Linked DNA regions of Homo sapiens. The protein of the gene in region 1 interacts with the protein of each later gene in a pairwise test. Each region holds a gene or a part of one and is shown on either strand. Other genes may lie near its edges. The genes, in order: CTTNBP2NL, STK24, STK26 and STRN.

Evidence for each region.
Region 2: the proteins of CTTNBP2NL (region 1) and STK24 interact in binary tests that used the Homo sapiens proteins (3 or more experiments, as listed by UniProt).
Region 3: the proteins of CTTNBP2NL (region 1) and STK26 interact in binary tests that used the Homo sapiens proteins (3 or more experiments, as listed by UniProt).
Region 4: the proteins of CTTNBP2NL (region 1) and STRN interact in binary tests that used the Homo sapiens proteins (3 or more experiments, as listed by UniProt).

The regions. Positions count from the first base shown.
Region 1 is NC_000001.11:112,413,176-112,420,213, reverse strand, and holds part of CTTNBP2NL (CTTNBP2 N-terminal-like protein), read right to left. Parts: intron 4,058-7,038; 5' UTR 4,049-4,057; coding exon 3,950-4,048; intron 1-3,949. UniProt on the Homo sapiens protein: Regulates lamellipodial actin dynamics in a CTTN-dependent manner. Associates with core striatin-interacting phosphatase and kinase (STRIPAK) complex to form CTTNBP2NL-STRIPAK complexes.
Region 2 is NC_000013.11:98,444,664-98,448,124, forward strand, and holds the end of STK24 (serine/threonine-protein kinase 24 isoform b precursor), read right to left. Parts: 3' UTR 2,155-3,461; coding exon of another isoform or gene 2,003-2,154; 3' UTR 1,543-2,002; coding exon of another isoform or gene 1,435-1,542; 3' UTR 522-1,434; downstream 1-521. Other genes in the region: FARP1 (FERM, ARHGEF and pleckstrin domain-containing protein 1), read left to right, coding at 1,435-1,542, 2,003-2,154. UniProt on the Homo sapiens protein: Serine/threonine-protein kinase that acts on both serine and threonine residues and promotes apoptosis in response to stress stimuli and caspase activation.
Region 3 is NC_000023.11:132,061,271-132,068,308, reverse strand, and holds part of STK26 (serine/threonine-protein kinase 26), read right to left. Parts: intron 4,877-7,038; coding exon 4,820-4,876; intron 95-4,819; coding exon 1-94. UniProt on the Homo sapiens protein: Serine/threonine-protein kinase that acts as a mediator of cell growth. Modulates apoptosis. In association with STK24 negatively regulates Golgi reorientation in polarized cell migration upon RHO activation.
Region 4 is NC_000002.12:36,956,511-36,963,548, forward strand, and holds part of STRN (striatin), read right to left. Parts: intron 1-7,038. UniProt on the Homo sapiens protein: Calmodulin-binding scaffolding protein which is the center of the striatin-interacting phosphatase and kinase (STRIPAK) complexes.

The DNA.
Region 1 (7,038 bases):
AAACCATGCTATTGCACTCCAGCCTGGGCAACAGAGCGAGACTTCATCTCAAAAAAAAAAAAAAAGCCACTCCAACTCTAAAAAACATATTAAAATGTGGCCACAAATGGTCACTGATTAATTCATTAACGTTTTATAATAAAGGTTATGAATACTGTAAATATAAAAACCTTATAACTCAGTAACCTAAATAAAGTTCTGCTCCCACCCTAATATCCCAGTTGGGAACTAGACAGAAATTGGACTTCTGTCAGTTATAGCTTATGTTCATGTGTTCATGTGATCTTTATCAATGATCGAAACCACCCATCCCAATCTTAAAAGCTCTTCCTAAAAACCATCTATTAAAATGGGATCATTTTTGGCCAAAGAACTGTTAGGTCCAGGCTTATGGGTGCCAGAGAATGTTTCAACTTGAGTCCGTTTAAGACTTTCAAAGATCTGTTATCAAGCAAGCTAATATCTGATTTTTTTAAAAAATGCAAACTCTCTTCACAGGCTTATTAGTATGTATGGTGATTGCTAAGTTCAATTTTACGTTTTTCATTTCAGACCAGTCTTTATAATAATCTGCTTCCATAATAAGTACAAGGCCGTGACCAAAGGCAGATGTTAGGCTATGGACTTATAGTGAACTTGCATTGTTATTTTTTTTTTAATTTTTGGTGCCACAACTTGGATACAACTGAGGTTGCTGCAGGCACAACACAGAGTACTAACCACTATATGATCATAGCTGTGATGTTCTTAAGCCACAGCACCTTCCATGGTAACTTTTGTTTTCTATATTTTGGCACTGTCATTAGATCCTTATGATTATTTTTTCAATAATATTTTCAGTGAAAGTAAATTATTTGTTTCAACAAAGACATAACATTTCGATTTTTTCATTTTAACCCTTTGTGGCTGAAAAAACTCACAACAGTTAAACCTATAGAATGATGTATTACATAATCTCATACTCTAAATATACTTCTAACTTTGTCATGTCTACAACATTTTTGCCTGTAAATCTTCTTGCTTGGGGGATTTTGCAACAGCATTTGGCCAAACACAACAAAGTTCTATCCTCGGTTTTAAAAGAGGATATCCCTATTTTATGATTGAGGCATCAATGGAAACGAATTCAAGACTCCTTAAGTTAATCGCACATGAAAGCTGTAATATTTCACCATTTATCATTGTATAGATGATTTAAAGAATGCTTTAAAATAAAGCAATACCAATAAATGCAAGGTGGATTCTATTTAGTCACAGAAGCCATTTAGTGTGGCTTTGCATCAGATCTAAGATGTGCAGATGTAATATACCCGATGTGGAATATTCAGAAATAAACTATTTAATCTAAATTTTATTAGCAGTCAAATCTATTTTTCAGATTTTTTAAAATGGCCATTGATTAACCTTCCTTTATTCTCCTCTGAAGCAATCACAGCCTATGGTAGGAAGCCATTTACTAGATTTGCTTGGAATTAATGAACTGAGGCTTTCCTGCTGAACTATGTGGTTCCACTCTCTGCTTCCCCCAGACAGTTCATGAGCAATGTAATTTGCTTTCATTGTAGAGGGTATTCCTTTGGTGTTCTTATTCATGAAATTAAAGTAATAAAAGGGAAAGACGTTCATAAAGAAGTTTTTTTTTTTCTGACATGATTCCTTCTAAAACAGAAAACCACTTTAAATAAAATTTAATTAGGACCAAATATAGTATAGGTCCCCTCCATAACAATTAGATTTGAAATATACAAGACACTGAATAATGTGTTACATTATTTTCTATTGGCTTTCCCTGGTTCTATGCCAAACATGTCTTGGCTGCAATAGAGAGTGAGTGAGGAGGATTCTGGGAAGAAAAAGAACGTAATTATGGGGGGCTCTAGAAGAGTATAGCTGCAATCTGGCACTTTGCAGAAATTTTGGAATAGGAATGTAGCTCTTTTACAATTCTAACTCTATAGGTGAGGTCAACTTACAGCCTATGGGAACTTTACAACATATCCTGAAAGAAACTCAAGCCTTGCCAAAGAAGTGACAGTAAGCCATATGGTTTTGTTTAGAGATATAAGATTAAAGAACAGATTTTATGTCCAGACAAAAATCTATTTTGAAGCTAGGGAGAAAATAAAAAGATAAGCTTTTTTTTACTGGAGACAAAACAGAAAAGAAAAACAAATCATAACTATTTAGAACAAAGACCAAAACCTTTTCAACCGACTAAGCATCAATTAAGAACCAATATTAAAAGGAAGAAAATTGGTAAGTTGCCATAGTAGTTCATAAAGTCCAACAGGTGTTTATTGTTAAGCAAAAACGATACAAATAATGCAGTAAAATCCTGATACATTGGAGAACCAAAACAAATAACAACAAAAAACCCCCCAAAACTCCATAAATAAAATGATACTTCAGTTTAAAGAATGCTATGGCAGTTACTTTTCTCAAACGATTGAAACAATTTTAATCCCGGCTGCCCCCTATTTTATCTAACAATAGATTGTTTAAAGATATGTCACTTCTGGTGAAGTTATTCATTTCACCTAAACTGCACAGAGTTAAGCCTCAGAATAATTTTATCACCTACAGACCATATGCAGACTAAATACAACACTTGTGCCTGATTCTGAATGGTATCTTATATCAAAATGCTCCCTTAATTTTAGCTCTTGCTTCTCAAGCTTCTCTCTCAACTTATCAGAACTGCCTATAGTAACCAAAATTGGATTCATGAAGAAAAAAATATATTTTAGGAAAACATGTGCAAAAAGCATCTAAGCATCTGTTAACATTAAAACCAGAAGGCAGTATGTGCTGCAGAGTACATAAGAAGAGGCTTTAAAATTTAGTAATTCACAACATCCACTTAGAAGTATTATAGTAATCTTTTAAAGTAACACACCACAATGGTACAATCATTTCATTTGTTCAACAAACATTTACTGAGCATCTACATGCCTGGCACTATGCTGGGTGCTGAGGATACAGTGATTAGTAAATAGACACATAAAGCACTACAGGTTTGTACAGTTTCTAAGGCTGAAAAGCAGACAGGTTATCTCGGTAAAACTATAAAAGAGAAAACGAGGTCATCCTCTGATTTTTCCATTAGAGGCAGCTGTTACCTCCACTCCTATCCTAATTATGAAGGGATTGAGACAGATGATAAATGGGGCAAAGAAGTGAGACTAACAATAGGCAATTAGCAGTGACAATTAGAAATGGGCTAAAACTACCAAAAGAATTCTTAATCTGGGGTCCAGGGAATCCGTGGATGTTTTCATGGGATCCTTGATCTCCCAGATATTATATTTCAAATTTTGATATATGGATGTATGTACATTTATTAGGAAGTTGCTCTTATCAAGTCTCAAAGGGGTCAGCGTTCAAAAACAGCTAAGGGCCACTAAACTAAAAGAATGAAATTCTGCCGGGCGTGGTGGCTCACACCTGTAATTTCAGCACTTTGGGAGGCTAAGCGGGGGCGGATCACCAGGTCAAGAGATCAAGACCATCCTGGCCAACATGGTGAAACCCTGTCTCTACTAAAAATACAAAAATTAGCTGGGCATGGTGGTGTGCGCCTGTAGTCCCAGCTACTCAGGAGGCTGGGGCAGGAACTTGAATGCAGGAGGCAGAAGTTGCAGTGAGCCGAGATAGCGCCACTGCACTCCAGCCTGGCGACAGAGTGACACTCCGTCTCAAAAAAAAAAAAAGAATGAAGTTCAAGGTCTAGACATCAGATCGAGAAACTAAGGGAACTATTTTGAAAACAGAAAGGTTTCACCAGTGTCCCTAATAACACACAATGTAGGTGGCTACCTATGGCAAGTATCAGTATGTCCTCCATTTAATTTCAATGGAAACTGCAGAAATACCTTAGTTAAATAAATTAAAACTAATGAATGACTTTCACAATGTATGATGACCTCTTTTTTTTTTTCTTTTAACATACCTTTAAGGCTTCTATAACAAGGTCCCTTGCTTCAAGCTCTCCTTCAAGAATACTAAATAGTGTCAGGAGTTCAGGCTTGCTGAGTTTTTCCAGATTCATCTTGAAAGCCTGAAACAAAGGTAACAATCAGACAATCTCCAAAGACATAGTTAATTTGATACAATTAAAGAAAAAATAAAGTGAGAGATAAGAGCAATTATAGTATCAAATGCCTTAATAAAGGAAATAGTTGAAATTAAATAGAAATATGTTTTCTGGTGTTAATCACAAACTAAGCAACAACAGAAAGTAAAATTCACTTTAATTATTGATTTCACTACCACTCACAAAGATCAATTTTTCATCATATTTCCTCCAGACACGTTTACAAACAAATATCCTAGGAAATCTCAGAAAGAATTAGCCGCTAGGGCTGGGTGCAGTGGCTCATGCCTGTAATCCCAGCACTTTGGGAGGCTAAGGTGGGCGGACCACGAAGTCAGGAGATCGAGACCATCCCGGCCAACATGGTAAAACCCTGTCTCTACTGAAATACAAAACATTAGCCGGGCATGGTGGGGCACGCCTGTAGTCCCAGCTACTCGGGAGGCTGAGGCAGGGGAATCACTTGAACGCGGGAGGCAAAGATTGCAGTGAGCCGAGACCACGCCACTGTACTCCAGCCTGGGCGACAGAGTGAGACTCTGTCTCAAAAAAAAAAAACCAAAAAAAAAGCAAACAAGAATTAGCCACTGATTTTTCAGGTAAAATTGTGTTATAATGAATACCATTTCTCTGAAAAATTGATAGACCATCAAAAGATTTCCCAGTTTTAGATAACCAATTTCCAAAACTGTATATAAAACATTCTGATATCCCTCTTCAATTGGTTAAAATAAAATTCGGGAAAAGAGATAATGTTTGGTGGGAGTATGGGAGAAATTTTTCTTTTAAATTGTCTGCTTTCACAGACAATAGCTAACACAATATTTATATCTTGTATAGTAAAATAGACTTAATTCAACTATATGCAAACTTACTTTTAAATGAATTCTCAAAGTATAGGGTTTAAACATCTTTATTTTTTTTTGTTTTAAGACAGGGTCTTGCTCTGTCACCCAGGCTGGAGTGTAGTGGTGCAAACACGGCTCACTGCAGCCTCAACCTCCTGGGCTCAAGTAATTCTCCCGCCTCAGCCTCCCAAGTAGCTAGGATCACCGATACATGCCACCACGCCTGGTTAATTTATTTTTTATTGTTTGTAGAAATGGGGTCTCCCTGTGTTGCCCAGACTGGACTCAAACTCCTGGGCTCAAGTGATCCTCCCACCTTAGCCTTCAAAGTGCTGGGATTACAGGCATGAGCCACTGTGCCAGGCCTGTTTAAACATCTTAATTGGCTAGGCTACCAAAAACTGAATTTATCTGACTTGGTAAGTTCACATTTCTCTGAGAATCTGCATGTTCCAAAGTATGTTAAATGGCAAATTGCATGACACAAACTCAATCCTTTCTACAACACTAATTCTCACAAACCACATAAAGATACAAGTTAGACTGCTGTACAATCTTGGAAGAGCCTTCTGACCAGTGTGTATGGTAAGATATATTTTATAATTTCCAAAGTAGAACAAATATTTCTCTCTCCACTTTTTATTTTCAAATTGCCACTCTTATGGAAAGTGAATCAAAACATGACCAGTTCACACATCCTCCAGTAATTTATCACTCTTTTTAATTTTGGGGGGCACACAAAAAAAGAATTGATTCCTTCCAGAGCTACTGCTTTTAAGTGAACATGTATAAAATGCATACTTCACTTTGTTGTTAGATTGTGTTCCAGGACATGCTGTCCAAGTCTTTTAAAGCATAGTAAAACATCTTCGATGTAACCTCAGCTCTAACTGCTAATTTTCTTTTTTTGAGATGGAGTCTCACTCAGTTGCCCAGGCTGGAATGCAGTGGGGTGATTTCGGCTCACTGCAACCACCGTCTCCCAGGTTCAAGTACTTCTCCAGTCTCAGCCTCTGAGTAGCTGGGATTACAGGCAACCACCATCACGCCTGGCTAATTTTTGTATTTTAGTAGAGACGGGGTTTCACCATGTTGGCAAGGCTGGTCTTGAACTCCTGACCTCAGGTGATCCGCCCACCTCAGTCTCCCAAAGTGCTAGGATTACAGGTGTGAGCCACCACACCTGGCCTTTTTTTCTTTTTCTTTTTATTTATTTATTTTTTTGAGACAGAGTTTTGCTCTTGTTGCCCAGGCTGGAGAGCAATGGTGCAGTCTTGGCTCACTGCAACCTCCGCCTCCCGGGTTCCAGCGATTCTCCTGCCTCAGCCTCCCAAGTAGCTGGGATTACAGGCACATGCCATCATGCCCAGCTAATTTTTGTATTTTTAGTAGAGATGGGGTTTTACCATGTTGGCCAAGCTGGTCTCCAACTCCTGACCTCAGGTGATCCGCCCGCCTTGGCCTCTCAAAGTGCTGAGATTAAAGGTGTGAGCCACCACGCCCAGCCTCTATTTTCTAACAAGTGAATTTCAGCAACTAGTAAATGACGTTCACTTTAGTATCAGGGATATATCTGATAACATTTATTTTAAAAATAAAAATAAAAACTAAAACAAAACTAAACAAAAAAATTCTAACAAACCTAATAAAGCTACACTTTATTAGAGGTTATATTGGAAAGAACATGTAGCTTGGTAGTCAGATGCCACATCTGCATCTTCCTAGTTGTGTGACTGGGCAAGTTATCTGACTCCGTTTTCTAATCTGTGAAAGGGGGATGATGATATTTAACTCATAGGGCTGCTATGAAGATTAAGTTAATAAATGTAGAACATCTTACCACATTGCTGATACCTGGTTTCATTATTAGTAACTATTATCCTGTCTCATTTTTCAAAAGAATTTAAGAAAGGCACTATCAAAAACTGCAGACAGCCAAGATCGATGACCTCGGAAATAACTTCAGTTGCCCTTTTGCAATTGGGAAGTCCTTCTTGGTTCTAGTTTAAGCTTCTAAGTAAAAACCAAGTATTATTTGTTAGATTCTAATAAAATAAAAATAAGAGGTACATATACAAAGAACTAAATTATATTGTA
Region 2 (3,461 bases), on another chromosome or scaffold:
GAGGCTATTGGAATGGCCAGGCAGAAGCTAGAGAGCGCTAAGGAAGCTGCTTTGGAAACAAATGGGCCCAGACTGTGATGGGTGACATGTATGAACCCCACTGTGGGCTGGCTGCTGTGTGAAAATTATGTGAGTCAGTATGAAAATACCTAGGAAAGGGGAGTGTGCCACCCTCCTTGCTCCATGTTGCGTGACCCAAGATGCCGCATGGGCATCAGCCCAGCCCTGGCCACCACCAGGACCTTCTGGGAACCTGGAGCCTTGCATTTTCTTGTTCCTTTCTGCCACTGGGGGAGGAGGATGGATGGCTGGAGCTGCCTGCCTGGCCTGGAATGCCCTTTCTCCCCGTCTGCGGGGTCCCCCACATCCTGCAGCCCCTCACGGACCTACTGTCAGTGTCCATGTCTCCCACTGGACCCTCCCTGAGCAACTGGAGGGCAGGGACATCAGACCATTTGATCCCAGCTCCCAGCACAGAAGCTTAGTGCCAGGGGCACCCAGAGAGATGGAATGAGGCAGACTCGGAGGTCTGTATTTTTTATTGTGGTAAAATAGCTATACCACAATATTGGCCAACTTAACGATTTTTACGGGAACAATTCAGTGGCATTAAGTGCCTTTACAAGGTGGTGCAACTGCTTTGAGTCTCTGCTGGTGATGTCACTTTGGCAAAGGGACGAAATGAGCCACCAGTGCGTCAGGCCTGCTCAGAGTTGTTTGGAGGTAGCATGGACACAGGTGCCTGTCCCTGCCCCCTAGCTGGGCTGCAGCGCATCCTAACAATGCTCCAGGGGCTGGGCCGGCCCTGAGCCTGGAGGTGGGCAGGGCTGCAACTGCCTCCTGGGCCACTAGAGGGCATGTGGGAGCCACTCACATGCACCCCAGGCCCCACTTCCTGGGTAGGGTGCCTGGCCCCTCAAAACGAGTGCTGCTCTGAGCTTGTTGGGATGGATCTTTCCCTCCTTCAGCTTCCGCCTGCTGGCAATGCATGGGGTCCTGCGCCCCCATTTCTGCCTCGGTGTCACAGGGCACACCCCTCTCCCCTCAAGGTGGCTCTTCTCCTCAGGACACCACTCCCGTTGGATTTAGGGCCCACCCTACCCCAGTGTGATCTCGTCTTCACTAGTTACCCTGCAACGAGCCTATTTCCAAATAAGCCTGTGTTCTAAGGTACTGGTAGTCAGGACCTCAACGTGTCTTTTGGGGGGACACAGGGACCCCAAGATGCCCCACAGCAAGTGACAAGGGGAAGTGATGAGATCAGGGTCCCAGGACCTGCCAAGTCTCCCCACACACGGGGGAGCGGGGGTGGGGCCCACATCCTTCAGTCACGGACATGCCCCAGCCCAGGGCCCTGGTGCAGGGAGAGCTGCTCTCTGTGCCCTCCTGGGGCAGGTGCCCGCTGTGCTTCTCACAGGCCTCCTTGCCTTTCAGAATCAGTTGTCTGGAAACCTGCTGAGGAAATTCAAAAACAGCAACGGGTGGCAGAAGCTGTGGGTGGTGTTCACAAACTTCTGCCTGTTCTTCTACAAATCACACCAGGTAAGTGTCTCGCACAGGGCAGGTGGCCCTGGGACCTTGGGGGTGGCAGCATGAGGTGAGGGGGCCGCCCTCCTCTGGAATGACTCAGGCCTCTTGGGCTCCAGGTGTCACGGGGATGACAGGGATGCTGGCGGGGGGCCCTGTCCACCCGAGGCCCTCAACTCTAGGGAAGACTGACATTATCATCCACTGAAGGACAACTTCTGCCCTAGGAAGGGCCACCTGTCTTCTGCCTGGACAAGGGACGGGGGTTGGCTTTATCTACAGCTCAGTCCTGGCGGGACTTGCCACCCGGGCCATCACGTACAGGCAAACACTGGCTGCCATGGTCCCTTCCAGGCCCACGCCCGAGGAGGGAGCTGCCTGGGCTCCCAAGTCCCTGTCTGATGCGGGGCAGCAGCCAGGCCCAGCAGCAGAAGCTGACCCCGAAAAGCCACTTTGCTTTGTTTCCCCTTTCCAGGACAATCATCCCCTTGCCAGCCTGCCTCTGCTCGGCTACTCGCTCACCATCCCCTCTGAGTCCGAGAACATCCAGAAAGACTACGTGTTCAAGCTGCACTTCAAGTCCCACGTCTACTACTTCAGGGCGGAAAGCGAGTACACGTTCGAAAGGTAGACACCCCCTTCCCACGCACAGGGCCCTGCAGAAGAGGACCCCCTCTTCCAAACATCAGGATTTCTCCCAAGTCAGCGAGTGAGATGGCCCCACCCTTCCCTGCCAACTAAGCGTTTAGACCTGGGGTCCCACTGCCCGACACCAGCAGGCGATTCTGTTCTCATGGCAGAAAGTGGGGTCCCAACTTCCCTGCGCCCTTACCCTGCACGGTGTTGGCTGAGGCCCTAGACATCTTGCTTGGAGATCTCTGACATAACGTGTCCGGGATGATGAAGCTAAGCCCCAGTGAGACTGCCTACATGGTGTAATGGCAGGGACTGCAGACTTCATTTAGCCAAGAAAGAAATGCAACAGTCAGGCCTAAGACTGTTCCTGCAATTCATATTTTGAATAGAGATCCTGGGCCTCTGCAAATTGCATCCCCAAGCCGACTACTTGTGCAGTTTGCCCTGCTGAGCCCTCCTCGCCCCGGGAGGCAGAAGGGGAGGGGTCCTCAGCAATATGCTGAGCACCTCCTAAACAACATCACCTGAAAAAGGAACCTAGAGGAGAGCCATTCTCAAATCTGATCCTGGACTGAGCTCGAGAGCTGGGTTGAGAGCTGGGTTGATCAAAGTTGGGATTTTGCTATTATTGTGACAAAGGGTCCAGCCTTGCAGTCCAGATCCTGAAAGGCCTGGGACAAGGCCAGGTAATTTGGGGAGTCCGTCCTGCATTGTGCAGGATGTTCAGCGGCATCCCTGGCCACCCACTAGATGCCCGCAGCAACCCCTCAGTTGGGACATCTAAAAATGTCTCCAGACTTTACCAAATGGGACAGCATTGCACCCATTTGAGAAGCACCGGTAGAGAGCAAATACACAAATATATAAAAAGGGAGATTTGGGCGTGGTGGTGCAAGCCTGTAGTCCCATCTCCTGGGAGGCCAAGGCTGGAGGATCGATTGAGCCCAGGAGGTAGCTACAGTGGGCGATAACTGCACCACTGAACTCCAGTATGAGTGACAGAGCCAGACCCTGTCTCAAAAAAAAAAGAAAAAGAAAAAAGGAAGGGAGAGCTTCCACTAAGCAGGATGGGACACGTCCCGCCATTCTCTGCCATGTCCATGAAAATAGGAGGTAGCGTTCTCCCCAGCAACCAGAGGCCACCTCGCTCCTAACTGCTCCAATGGAGCGGGCAGTGTCACTGCAGCAAGGTACTTCCAGCTCCACACTGAGTGAGTGCCCAGGCCAGTGGGTCTCCACTGTACCTCAGGAACGCCTGGGTGCTGGCTGTTCCCTTGCTCTTCTGCTGAAGTGGCAGA
Region 3 (7,038 bases), on another chromosome or scaffold:
GAATTTTCTTTTCTGAATGCAGATAGTCCAGACCTTTTAAAATTTCCTTTAGCATGGTAGCAATCTGGAACTCATCAAATGGACCAGCTCGAAGCTTAAGGGGAAAAACACACACACACATACACATATGTGTAAAAGTTTGGAAACATAAAATTCAAAATTGGTACCTTTGAAATGAAGAAATCACTTAGACACATGATGCCGTTCTGTTTATCAAACCAATATCTAAACAAGGAAGGAAAAATGTAAAATGTGAAGGAAGAAAGCAAAAGAGTTCAGTCAAAGGGCTGAACAGGTTTTTTAATGATTCAATTTAATGAAAGATAATACGAGCCCTTTTACCTATATACTAGGCTTCAAATTCTGAGGTTCCTGAATATTTACATCAAAGATGAAACAAATATGCTTACGTAATGACAGAACCAACTATCTGTTCTTTAGATGGAAAAAAAGAGAAATCAGCTACTTAAATTCAGGCAATTGCTGTGAAAAAGTTACTACATATTGACACGAAACTGATTTTTAGGTCAGAGAATCCATAAGATTTCCACAGCAACTATTTGATCATATCAGTCAGCATTTATGTATTTTAATAATATTGCAAAGAATAGCCTTTTTGAGACTCAAATTGTAAATTTAGCCAAGAATATAATAATTAAACTATTCAGACTATGATGGTAAAAAAAAATTAAATCATGGAGGGATAATGTTTTTCAAATAAATGTAACACATATCCCTTTATTTCCCCATCCCTGTACCAAAGCCAATAGTTCCAACTGGAATACAAGGAAAGCAATGATTAGGTTTCAGGAGAACTTGTAATGGAATATCTGAAAATCCCTCTTTAAAATAAATGGTTATTTTAAAATTCTGGTACCTCATAAAGCACAAACAGTGGACTGTACAATATTATTACAGGAAAGGGTGGGAATCTAAAGTCAGAGCAGAGGTAGAGTTCTGTTTGCTTCTGGAAGGAGGGAAGAGGTGGTGAAAATCAAACATTGCCCACTCTGCCTCACACTGGGAGGGATCCACAGCTCTTTGGCACCTTGTGTATTTCATCTTTCATGAATGCCATATTTATGCTGAATAAAGGGCACTTTCATGTTGAAATTTAACAGCTTAAAATAGAACTCATACTTTGGTCTCACCATCTAATATTAACTGTGGTCTGGGTATATAGTATACTCCAGGGATATCTGTAATTCAATAGGTCCCTTTCCTAGGTAACATTATCTACTTACTTTCAAATCTATCAACTTCCACCCCAAAGTTTCTATTCAAACAGTAGTGATTAAAATAGTTTCTAAAGTCTTCTAGAAAGGTTGAAAATGGCATACTATTTTGTTGATGGCTGGCAATGAACTTCTGAGGTACTACAAAATAACTAAAGGACAAATGTCACACTACTTAAGATCAGTAATTAGTATCATCTGATCACAGGACATTGGCAAGACCAGGGGAGGTATATCCTTGGTTATTTCAGTGATTGGGCAAGATTAATGTACGACCTACTAGCTATCATTCTGAAGGACATGTAAAAGTAACATAAATAAGCCAGTATATTACCTAATACAGAAGTTTTTAAAAATATTTAAGTAAAAACAACAAAAAGGGGATCCCAAAGATTCATGAGCTTATCTGCTATATTTTAGGTTCATGTTAAAATTCAATAAAAGTGAAATCTCAATTAACTGGGTGCTAGAGGAGGATGGGAAGAAAGACTCTGTGGCAGGGAGACTTCTCCATTTGAACTTTTCTCCGATAACTGAAGAACTTGCCATGTCTCTAACAGATAATATCTCTGTCCCAGGGCAGTGTACTTGCCTTGTGTAATTTGCCTCTGTTGTCAAGTAAGAATATGCAAGAGAGGGACCTTGACTCTTTCGAAGACTGTACATTTGTGAGCTCATGGATCTTTGTCACAATTTAACTTCCAGCCAGTCCCTAATGCAGTCTGCTATTTTATGCCCTCTCTTATGGTTAGCATATTGTTTCTTTTTTCTTGGGGCTCATGTTTTATTCTAGTCATCTTATTATATGTGTTTTTGTTGCAAGCCACCACGATTCTTTTTGGAAAGAAGTGGAGCATAATAAACTCAATAAAATGATGTGCAATATACTCAAAGTCTGCTCACATACAATAAATTGTTTTTCAAGAATGGGAGTGACTCAAGGTAGACACTGTATAATGTTAACATAAATGACAAGTTGTAATCTTATGTTATTCCATTAGTTAGGTACCAGGCACCAGTTTAATGTGAGAAACACTCTCTGCTAAACATCCCTCTTATTTCCTCTTGTTCTTAGTAGCAGAGCCTTCCTCTACACCTAATCCTGTCTTAGATTCCCCCAAATGATAGCATTTATTTGTACAGGAATATACATGAAAAAGGAATAGCACATTTTCTCATTATCTGCTCTCCCTGTAAAGTCTAGTTAAATGAGTTTTATAATTAAATCACAATATTATTGAATTTTAGAGCTAAGAACACAAAATTAGAGATTACTGATTCAATTTCTTCATTTAACATGTGAATAAATTAAGACACAAGGAGGCTAAAGGGCCGCCCAATATTTGCCAGGCAGTCAGTGTTAGCACTGGGTTTATGACCTAGGCCTTTTGATTCTTAACCAATACAGTACTAACAACATTTTTCATTCATTGAAACTGTTATTAATGGCTATTTGTTTTATTAAGTAGAGTTCAGAATAGCAGGATGAGATTAAGATCTCACAATCATTTAACTTGGAGATTTCATAAAACTGACCAAACTACTAATAGGGGACACAGATTTGGGTCATTGGTTGGGGTTAGGCCAGTGTTCACTGTTTAACATTGCTATCAGTGATCCTGTTGAACAGAGTGGCCTAGCTTTGCCAGTGCTTCCAAAATGGGGAAGAGATATGGTGAGCACCCTGAGGAACCAGATAAGACAACTGATAAATTTGGAAAGGGCTCTTAATATTCAAAAAATGGAAGGAGGATCATGAAACAATTGAGAGGCTTCTTGTAGAGCTAATGAAAAAACTATTGAATAATATGACTCTGTGACAAGACAAATAGAAATGAGATCATTTAACTTCAAGAGGAGAATGAAGCCTGACTCCATATGCATGAAGGATTATTACACAAAGAAACATCAGTGGTGTTCTCTCACTAGAGACGAGAGAAAAAAAATGAACTCAGGCTTTAGGATATAAGAATTAGATTAGACACAAGGAAAGATTACCAAATTCAGCAACTGATTAAACTGACATGAATTCCTAGTAGTAGATGAGGCTCTCCATCAAGTTTAATTACCATTTCTTTAAAATGGTTTAAATATGGTTCTGCCTAAAGGAAAGAAAATCTCTTATAGTCATTTCTGTTCATAAAATTATTTGAAGCTTTGAGTTACTGGCAGTCAAGGTTAAAGCCTTTTAAAAATATTTAATCACTTTCAGTTAGGAAAACTCATCTCCACCTAAAAAAATAAGAATTAAAATATTACTTGATTATTTTAATCAAAACACTTTCTTAGAAACAGCATACTCTATAATTTCTAAGGCAGAAACACGCAAATAAAAAAAATATAATATTAAAGATGGAAGGGAACTTAGAAATAACTTAGTGCAACTTCTTTGTTTTATAGAACACCTACGTCCAGGAAGTTTGTGTCTGGTTCACAGGCACAGAGCCAGACCTATAACCTCAAACACCCCAGGCCAGCCCAGTGGTCATTCTACTACACTAAGTTGCCTCTCATAAGTCATACTGAATTTTAAAACATAGTATCATATTAATAAAGATTTTTAAGGAAGGGAAAGAAACTCAACATTGATAGGATCACACTGAATTGGGGAACAACCAGTGTTTCTCAAAGGCATTCTGTGTGTAAATGCATCTTCATTGGGTTGAATTTTCCTGCACACTGCAGGATTTTAGCATTCTGATCCATGACCACAAAAATGGCAGGAGCACTTCTAAGTCATTGTGACAACCCAAATGCCATCACATTTCCAAATAACCTATAGAGGGGCAGAGAGAACTCTGTGAAGAACTGGATCTGTAGGCCAACCTTGTTTAGAACCCTAGTACCACTATCTTAGTCAATTCAGGTGCTATAGCAGAATACCACAGACTGGGTGGCTTAAACAATATTTCTCACAGTTCTGGAGACTGGGAAAGAAGTCCAAGATCAAGGGGCTGGCAGATTCGAGTCTGGTAAAGGCACTCTTCCTGGTTTCCAGAAGGCCTTCTTCTCACTGCACCCTCTCGTGGTGGAAAGAAAGTCAGAGAGCTCTCTGGGGCCTCTTTTGTAAGGGTGCGAATCTCATTCATGAGAACTCACCTTCATGACTTAATTAGGTCCCAAGGTCCCCACCGCCTAATACCATCACATTGGGGGTTAGGATTTCCACATATGAATTTTGGGGGGACACAAACATTCAGTTCATAAAAAACACTTTTAGTGACAGTTATCTCAATTACATATTTTTTAAAAATCTAAGAAAACTCAGTTTTTTCAGGGATAAGCTTGCAAAAGTCAAACTTTGACAGCAATGGATACACACATCCCCTTCTAATTTGGGAGACTTTATTTTATTAAGCTATTTGCATTTCTTATATAGTCTTAGAATGCCAGCAACATGTTCAAACGTACAATACATCTGTACCTACATAAGGTAGAGGTCATGAAAAAAGAATTTAATTTGAACATATTAACTAAAGCAACCACTTAGCGTGCTCAAAAGCCATTAATCTTCAATTTAAAAAATTAAGGTATGTGCATATGCACACATTTGCATCTGTGTGTAACTATTTTAAAATACTTACAAGATCCAGTGCTGAACCACCGCCCAGGTATTCCATTATTATCCATAATTTAGACCCCTGTAAAGCCATGAAACAATTTAATAATTACAAACCTGAGCCAAAATAACATACTAGCAAAAATGTTAAATCTCACATACTAAAGCACAGATTCTATTTGCATGTTCTCATTTATTTGTGGGAGCTAAAAATTAAAACAATTGAACCCTTGGAGATAGAGAATAGAAGGATGGTTACCAGATGCTGGGAAGGATAGTAGGGAGGGGGAGTTGGTGATGGTTAATGGGTACAAAAAGTAGTTAGAGAAAATGAGTAAGATCTAGTATTTGATAGCACAACAGGGTGACTATAGTCAATAATAATTTAATTATACTTTTAAAAATAAGTAGAAAAGTATTACCGGACTGTTTGTAACACAGAGAGTAAATGTACCCTGATGTGATCATTATACATTATATGCCTTTATTAAAATAGCTCATGTACCCCCATAAATATTTACACCTTCTTTGTAGCCACAAAAATTAAAAATTAAAAAAATAAAGAACAGATTCTAAAATGTAGGTTTAAAAATGGTTGCTTGGGAACCCCGAATATATTTTTTCCATAGAACATTCCAAATTAAAATTCTGAGCTTAGACTACCCGCATACCTTTTTGCCTATGATATAGCTAAACAAATAAAAGTACTGTTTGTTATTGTTGAACTATTAGTAATTTTTATAAAAAACAAAGCTTTAAATAATTATCTTGAATGATATTGGAAAGAAAAGATAGTTACATTAAAGAATGAGGAGGTAAATGAGGGCTTGTAGAAATTTTGGGTTTGAGTTTGAGGACAATGGATATTTTGCCTTATTTCAGTTGTTGGCTTTCATTTGTTTTGATGTACTTCAAACTTTTATCAGCTACGGTTAATGGGCATTTTTGGCACACACGGAACCTAGAAAGAATATTGTTCATTTTACCTCTGATGTAAATGGATAAGAAAAAGGGAGAGTGTAGCTTTAAAAATCTGTGCTTTCTCCAGGTGGAATTAACTTCCCTGTGAGCTGAACAAGAGGAAATGGGGCTCCTGGGAGGAATATATGTATACAAATTCTAAAACAGGTGTACACACACACATACCATTCAGTACCATCAGTTAAACACTGGAATAAACCATTAAACCCTTTTTATTTTAGCTATAGCTTAAATACAAGGGACACCTCTCTCTCCATACCATTTCATGAGTGGTATTCTCTGAATTTTTGTGGGACCAAAGAGCTGACTGGAAGTAGAATGGTTGGCTTTACTATACTGGCAGCAGCCAAGTAGTGACTGGACTGTGTTCCAAAAGTTGGTTTTTAAGTAAGATGTTCAGAATTTTAAAAGCAAGCATTTTCCCATAAAAATAATGTCTAAGTTCCTGGGGTAGTCCTCCCAAAAGACAATTTCACACAAATGTATTCATTCGTAGTATAGCATAAAAAGTACCAGAGAAACTCACTACTATTTATATCTTAACAATATTTCAAGTAGGAAAATATATTCAGCATGGTGCCTCAACTTGGGATGCCAGAAACACATTTCTCACCTTTACAACCCCAGCTGCGGGGTGAAGATTCTCAAGCTACTGCCAGTAGCCCTCAAACTCAAAAATCCCTGGGAGGTATTCAGGAGTCCAATTTAAAATTTCCAGGCATCTCCATGAGGATGTGACTTTATCAAGGCAGAGAATGGAACCCAGTGACATGATGATGAGTGCTTAGGGGATGGGAGAGGGTTGAAGAATCAGAGTGGAACTGACATTGTAGTGTGGGGAATGGGATGTGGCCTAGGGTTAGCGATCATGAAGGGAGGGCTCAGTTAATTAAGACAAAATGATTCTCCTTTCCATATGCTGACACTATGTAGAATTTGTAAGAGAAAGGGAGGAACAATATTCCCCTACCACTTCCTCCACTAATCTTGACATCCACTCTGTCCTGACATAGATGGCCAGCAGGCACTGTGAGCAGAAAGCTGAGAGTCTTGGTTAGCAGTGAAGTCTACATTAGGAAATAGAGGAAATAAATTCCCACAATACTGGTGAGGGAAGAGGAGTTCCAGGAAAGGTTCATATAACTTGTATTTGTGTATAGAACCTAGGCACTCGCAACCTGAGAATTGTGACTCTGATGTACCTTTATACTTTTTTCAAGAGAAGAAAAAAGTGGTTCTTACAATGGTGGATAGGTTAAAAAT
Region 4 (7,038 bases), on another chromosome or scaffold:
CTAATGGCCCAGAATTGAAACCTGGATGCTACACACATTAGCAAATCAAAAGTATAGCTGACATCAAGGAGATAGCAGGTGGGCAAAGGGGACTCTATCCAGATTATCTGAACTTTCAAACACCTTTCATTGACTGCATAGCAAAGGGTTTTGTTTGTTTTAAACTCTGCTTCAGTTATCAAGATTTTGGAGAAAAACTGTAGGTCTCCCTTTACCATTCAAAGAAAAGTAGATTTGAAATAAAGTTCAGGACTAAATAGGCACATCTCTTGATAAAGAAGTGCTGTCTGTCAACATTATTTCTCCCCCAAAAATTAGTAGGGCCATTCTTATTTGTCAGATTTTGAAAGTAAAATAAGAGAATTCAGTTTCCAGTTATGGTGCCCCACAACAATTCTTCTACTGAACGCAGCCAAAAATTCTGGACAAAATATTTTCACAATTTTCTTAAAAGCAACACAAAAATAGGAAGGAATTATCTGGCCAAAATAAAAGGGAAAATGGGAACCCAGTGAGGTAAAGGAACAAAAAGCCATTTTTGCCCTTAGGATATTGACCAATCACAACAAACAGCCTTGCAGGACTCAAGGAGCAAAAATCAAACACCCTACCCCTCCAGAGTGGACAGTCTAATAGGTGATATACCTCACATTTAGCTAGATCCCTAAAGGGCTTATGTCTTCAAAGCAAAGACAAAACAGAAGTATATTGGCCCTCAAATGTATTCACAACCAAAATTCACATCAGCTGGGTGGCCCAAACATCTTAAGTAATGCATTTACTTTAAAGTGATTCCAGGCCTGGCAGTGGCTCACGTCTGTAATTCCAGCACTTTGGGAGGCGGAGGCGGGCAGATCACTTGAGGCCAGGGGTTCAAGACAAGCCTGGCCAACATGGCAAAACCTCGTCTCTACTAAAAATACAAAAATTAGCCAGGCGTGGTGGTGCACACCTATAGTCCCAGCCACTCCGGAGGCTGAGGCACAAGAATCGCTGGAACCTGGAAGGCAGAGGTTGCAGTAAGCCAAGATCACACCACTGCACTCCAGCCTGGGTGACAGTAAGACCATCTCAAAAAATAAAAATAAAAAATAAAGTGGCCCCAGACTGGTAATAACTCTAGACATCTACCAGAAGGAAATGTAAAAAACAAAAAACAAACAAAAAAAAACCTTTCTGAAGAAGATACCTTTATTTGAGAGCTCAGATTAGTCTCATAGTTCTTCTTTTTGTCTTTTTTTTTTTTTTTTTTTTTTTTTTTTGAGGTGGAGTCTCTGTTGCCCAGGCTGGATTGCAGTGGTGCAATCTCGGCTCACTGCAACCTCTGCCTCCCAGGTTCAGGTGATTCTCCTGCCTCAGCCCCCCGAGTAGCTGGGATTACAGGCGCCCATCACGACGCCCAGCTAATTTTTTTTTTTTTTTTTTTTTTGAGACAGTCTCACTCTGTTGCCCAGGCTGGAGTACAGTGGCGCGATCTTGGCTCACTGCAAGCTCCGCCTCCTGGGTTCAAGTGATTCTCCTGCCTCAGCCTCCTGAGAAACTGGGATTACAAGCATGTGCCAACACACCTGGCTAATTTTTATATTTTTAGTAGAGACGGGGTTTCACCATGTTGGCCAAGCTGGTCTTGAACTCCGGACCTCAGGTGATCTGCCCGCCTCAGCCTCCCAAAGTGCTGGTATTACAAGCATGAGCCACCGTGCCTGTCTAGTCTCACAGTTTTTCAAGGACAGCAGGCGGCACACAAAGGTAAACTAAGGATACAAGGGAACACGTCGTCATGAACAAGAACCAGCAGAGACAACAGACCACACAAAGGCACCTCTAAGACCTCAGATAAAGGAAACGCAAAGACACTAACTAAAAAATAACTACTTACTATGTTTAAAGAATTAAAGATGACACTGAAAATACCTGCAGAGAACAGAACAATATTTTTTTAAGAAATGACCGAGCAGATTTGAAAAGAAACCAAAATGAACTTCAACAATAACCAAAACTAAAAATTCAGTGGATGGTTTTAACAAATCAGACTCAACTGAAGAGAAAATTAATGGAGTGGAAGATATGTCATTCACAGACTGGAAAATAAGTCAGAATAAATTATCGAGAATAAAGCATGGAGAGATAAAAAGATGGAAAATACAGAGCAGATAATGGAGAAGCCCTAAGATCATGTAATCAAAAACCCAAAAGGAGAAGAAAGGAAAATGCAATCGAGGACAAACCTAACAAGATAGCAACTGAGAAATCTGCAGAACTAATGAGAAGCCAATCCACAAATTCAAGGAGTCTAATGAAGTCCCAAACAAAATAAAAAGAAATATAGGCTGGGTGTGGTAGCTCACGCCTCTAATCCCAACACTTGGGAGGCTGAGGCGGGCGGATCACGAGGTCAGATAGAGACCATCCTAGCTGACACAGTGAAACCCCATCTCTACCAAAAATACAAAAAATTAGCAGGGCATGGTGGCGGGCGTCTGTAGTCCCAGCTACTCGGGAGGCTGAGGCAGGAGAATTGCTTGAACCCAGGAGGCGGAGGTTGCAGTGAGCCGAGATTGTGCCACTGCACTCCAGCCTGGGCGACACAGCTAGACTCCATCTCAAAAAAAGAAAAAGAAATCTATACTGTGACACATCATAATGAAACTACATAACACCAAAGACAGAGAAAATCTTAAATGCAACCAATAAAATAAGCTAGAAAGCAGTAAAACACAGTAAAATCTTTATGCCTGTTATCTAAAAAAAATAAATAAATAAGCATCAGTGTGGCTCTGCTTACCTCAGAAGGTTGTACAGTTTAAATGGTACAGTGTATCTGAAAGGGCTTTAAAGAAAACTGTAAAGAGTGCTGGCTGTAGCAGTACATATACTCAAATTGGAATGATACAGATGATTAGCCTGGCCCCTAGACAAAAAATATGAAAAAATAAAACTGTAAAGATATCTGGAGATGTAAGTGACAGCTTGTACAAAACCTATTTCATTCTTGGTCATTCAGCCTCCCTCTGAACCTCACTTTACCTAACTGAGCTGATTATTTCCAAAGTTCATTCCAGCTCAAAGATTACTCTGTCATTACATCTCAGTCAGAAGGAGGTGATTCAAATTATAATATTCTACTGCCTAAAAATAAAATGCTATCATCAGAAAGAACAATGGAAAAAGAAATTATATCCCAAATTCTATAAAAAGCCATCCATATAGGGAATACTAATAAAAGTGTTGAAATCACCAAACTTTTATAGATAATGTAAAAACAGAAAAAAACAACTAAAGCAGTGGTTCTCAATCCTTGCTGTATACTGGGGAGCTCAAAAAATACTAATGCTAGGGGTCCTCATTCCTAAGATTCTGATTTAATTGATCTGGGGTAGAGTCCAGGGAATTAGTATTCATTCCCTCTGATTATTCTAAGATTATAGCTAAGGTTGAGAAACACTGAACTGAAGAGACAAATAATAGGATACGTTTTAAAAGATTAAAGCCTCTATAACCTTTCTAAAATATAAAGATTATGAAATTATCAAGAATATGAGTAGAATGAAAAATGAACCTGCTGACAAAATTATACCATATGACAATGGAGTTCACCTGCTCCACATGTAAAGGAAGTGGCTTAAAGAGCCAAATAAAATGTAGGATTCATTTCATAATGTGGTTAGTAAATTTACACAATTTGTTACCCATGATGTAATGCAAAGTTAAGATAAACACATTCAGAAAAGTTTATATGAATTTCAAGGTAACAGATACCTACTGGGTTATTAAAAGGAAAGCAAATACACTTGAAGTATATCCTCAATGTTCTGAGGCTGACACTGAAGGCAACCATTCACTCCCATTAAATATCTCTTAGTGCCTGGGTCAGACCCAGAATATTACACTGCATGGCCTCAGGATGGCACTTGTATGCTCCAGCCTCAGAAAAGTTCATGACTGAAGATTATGCTTTTCTCTGGGGATGAGGAGATAACCGAGAGCAAAAGTTTAGCATCATGCATCTGCAACCATTTATTAAGCACTTACTTTATCTTATGTACCATGCCTCTGCTAAGTACTTTAAATTATCTTAATTTAATTCTCACAAGGTAATTTATTATCCTTAACTTACACATGAGAAAACTAAGGCTCTGAGAGATCAGAATTACGGCAAATATGTATTTTAGGCGTAAAATACAATAGTAAGTTTTAAAGCAAGAATTTTAAACCCAGGTCTCTGCCATATTGCCTTTTGTGATAATTATAAATAATAGTCACAATAATAAAGACAAACTCATTTTAAGTATTTATGTTTTCCATTAAAAAGCTCAGTAAATCTTCTCAGCTGTCCTATGAGGCTGCTCATTCTCTCTATATCCATGTATTTTTGTTTGTTTGTTTGTTTGATTGATTTGTTCTGAGACAGGGCCTCACTCTGGCACCCAGGCTAGAGTGCAGGGGCATGATCATAACGCAGTGCAGCCTTGATCTCCAGGGCTCAAGCAATCCTCCCATCTCAGCCTCACGAGTAGCTGGGACCACAGACGCATGCCAACGCACCCAGCTAACTTTGTGAATTTTTTGTAGAGATGGGGCTTCACCATGTTGCCCAGGCTGCACTTTTTTTTTTTTTTTTTTTTTTTTTTTCTGAGACAGGGTCTCCTTCTGTCGCCCAGGCTGGAGTGCAGTGGAGTGATCATGACTCACTGCAGCTTCAACCTCCCAGGCCCAAGCAATCCTCCCACCTCAGCCTCCCAAGTAGCTGGGACTAACCCGGCTAATTAAAAAAATTTTTTTTTCTGGAGATGGGGTTTTGCCATGTTGCCCAGGCTAGTCTTGAACTCCTAGACTCAAGTGATCCTCCTGCCTCAGCCTCAATCCCAAAAGTACTGGGATTACAGGATTACAGGTTTTGAGCCACTGCACCTGGCCCTCTAAAAACTGTTAAGTCATCTTTGACTCCCCTTTTTCTCAAACCCCACATTCTATCCTTTAGCACATCTTGTTGGCTCTACCTTTAAAAATGTATTCAGAATCCTGTATTTTGAATACGTATCAAATACATATTCACATATCTTATCACTACCACCTTAGTTCATCTTCTGCCTGGATTTATTAAAGTAGCCTCCTAACTAGTCCCCCTGCTGCTTCTACTTGTTTTCCCTCCAAGTCTGTTCTGAATCCTTACAAGGGGTCCCTTTTAAAGATGGTGTCACTCTTTTGCTTAAAACATTCCGACGGCTGCTCAGCTTGCTGAGGTATAAGGCCAAAGTCCTTACAATGGGCAAGACCCTGTCTGACATGACTTCTTCCATTAGTACCTGTTTGACATGACTTCTTCCATTCTCTTCCTCTACTCTAGCCACTTTTCCCTCCTTGATATTCCTTAAATATTCCAAGCGTGCTCCCTTCCCCCAGCTGTTCCTTCTGTGTAGAAAGCTCTTTCCTCACCTTAGAGATCACCTTTTCAGGTCTTAGCTCGAATGGCATCTTATCAGTGAATCCTTTCTTCCCCATTCCACCCTCTCAAATCCTCTTATTTTCTTTCCCAACATTCTATGTATTTATTTATCACTGTCTGCCTGCCTCAACAATTTAAGCTTCATAAGGGCAAGATCTGTATTTTTGCTGTTGTATCTCCGGTATCTAGAACAAGGTCTGGCATGAAGTAGATGCTTGAAAAATATTTGGGGAGTGAAAATACAAATTATTAATGCCAAAACCCAGAAAATACAAGTTATTAATGCCAAAACTCTAGCATACAGCCTCCACACCACATGCCCTAAGCTACTCAATCTTGCCACCTTTTTCATACAACTCTAACACTTACAGGTAAATATCAGGGCCTCTCCTACACCACACACCACACACATATCAAAATCTAGGGCCAACATTTTTTATTTTTTATTTACATGCCTGCTTTCTCATAAGTCAGTAATTTTCAAATACTGAGCCTTAGGTTCTCATGAACTCATAAAGTTCTTTACTCCTGCTATTCTCCCCATTCACTGCTGGCTCTTCTCTCCTTCACTATTCTTTTTTTTTTTCTTAAGATGGAGTCTCATTCTGTCGCCAGGCTGGAGTGCAGTGGCACGATCTCAGCTCACTGCAACCTCCGCCTCCCAGGTTCAAGCGATTCTCCTGCCTCAGCCTCCAGCACACACCACCATGCTCAGCTAATTTTTGTATTTTTAGCAGAGACAAGGTTTCACCATGTTGGCCAGGACGGTCTCGATATCTTGACCTCACGATCCGCCTGCCTTGGCCTCCCAAAGTGCTGGGGATTACAGGTGTGAGCCACCGCGCCCGGCCTCTCCTTCACTATTCTAAAGAAATTAGCCTTCTCCCCAAATGATAAACACTCTGATTCTTCTACAAGTTATATCGTACTAATAACTAGACTGCATGTTTCTTTGAGGTCATCTAGCACAATGCCTCACATACAGAAATTTTTCTCAAATATTATTAGTATTCCTTCTCCAATTCCTTTCACAAATGTAAAGCTCACTAATAATCTTAATCATTCTTTTTTTCCCCCCATGAACTACTGCCTAATCTCAACTGGATGTGAGGAGGGGAGCATTACCAAAAATAAAAAGAGAATTTATCAAATAAGATGAGCAAGAGTGAAATAAGTGACAAATAAATAGGTTTTTGCTATAACGTGGCCCTTTCCTTACTCCCAAGATCTGAAGGAGGGAGGAAGCAGTAAAGGCAGGCCAGGCAGATGAGAGCTTGGATTGCCTTTCACAAGTCTTCCCTGGCAACCTGAAAGAGCAGGACTGACAGGTTCTTGAAGAGGCAAATTTGACTTCATCTTAAAGGTATTTGTGTTGACTCTGGTGTTAATGGCTTAGGAAGAGATTTAAAAATTAAAAGGAGGACACCAACTGAGCCGTATTTCATCACAACGCATTCAACTATTTTACTTCCTATTGTGTTTCTAAGAAAATTCCAGTAGCAAAAGAAAAATAAAGAAGATTCAAATGTAACGATGGTAATAATTTTTTTTCCAATTACACTAATAAGGGGGGACAAAGACCAGAGATTACT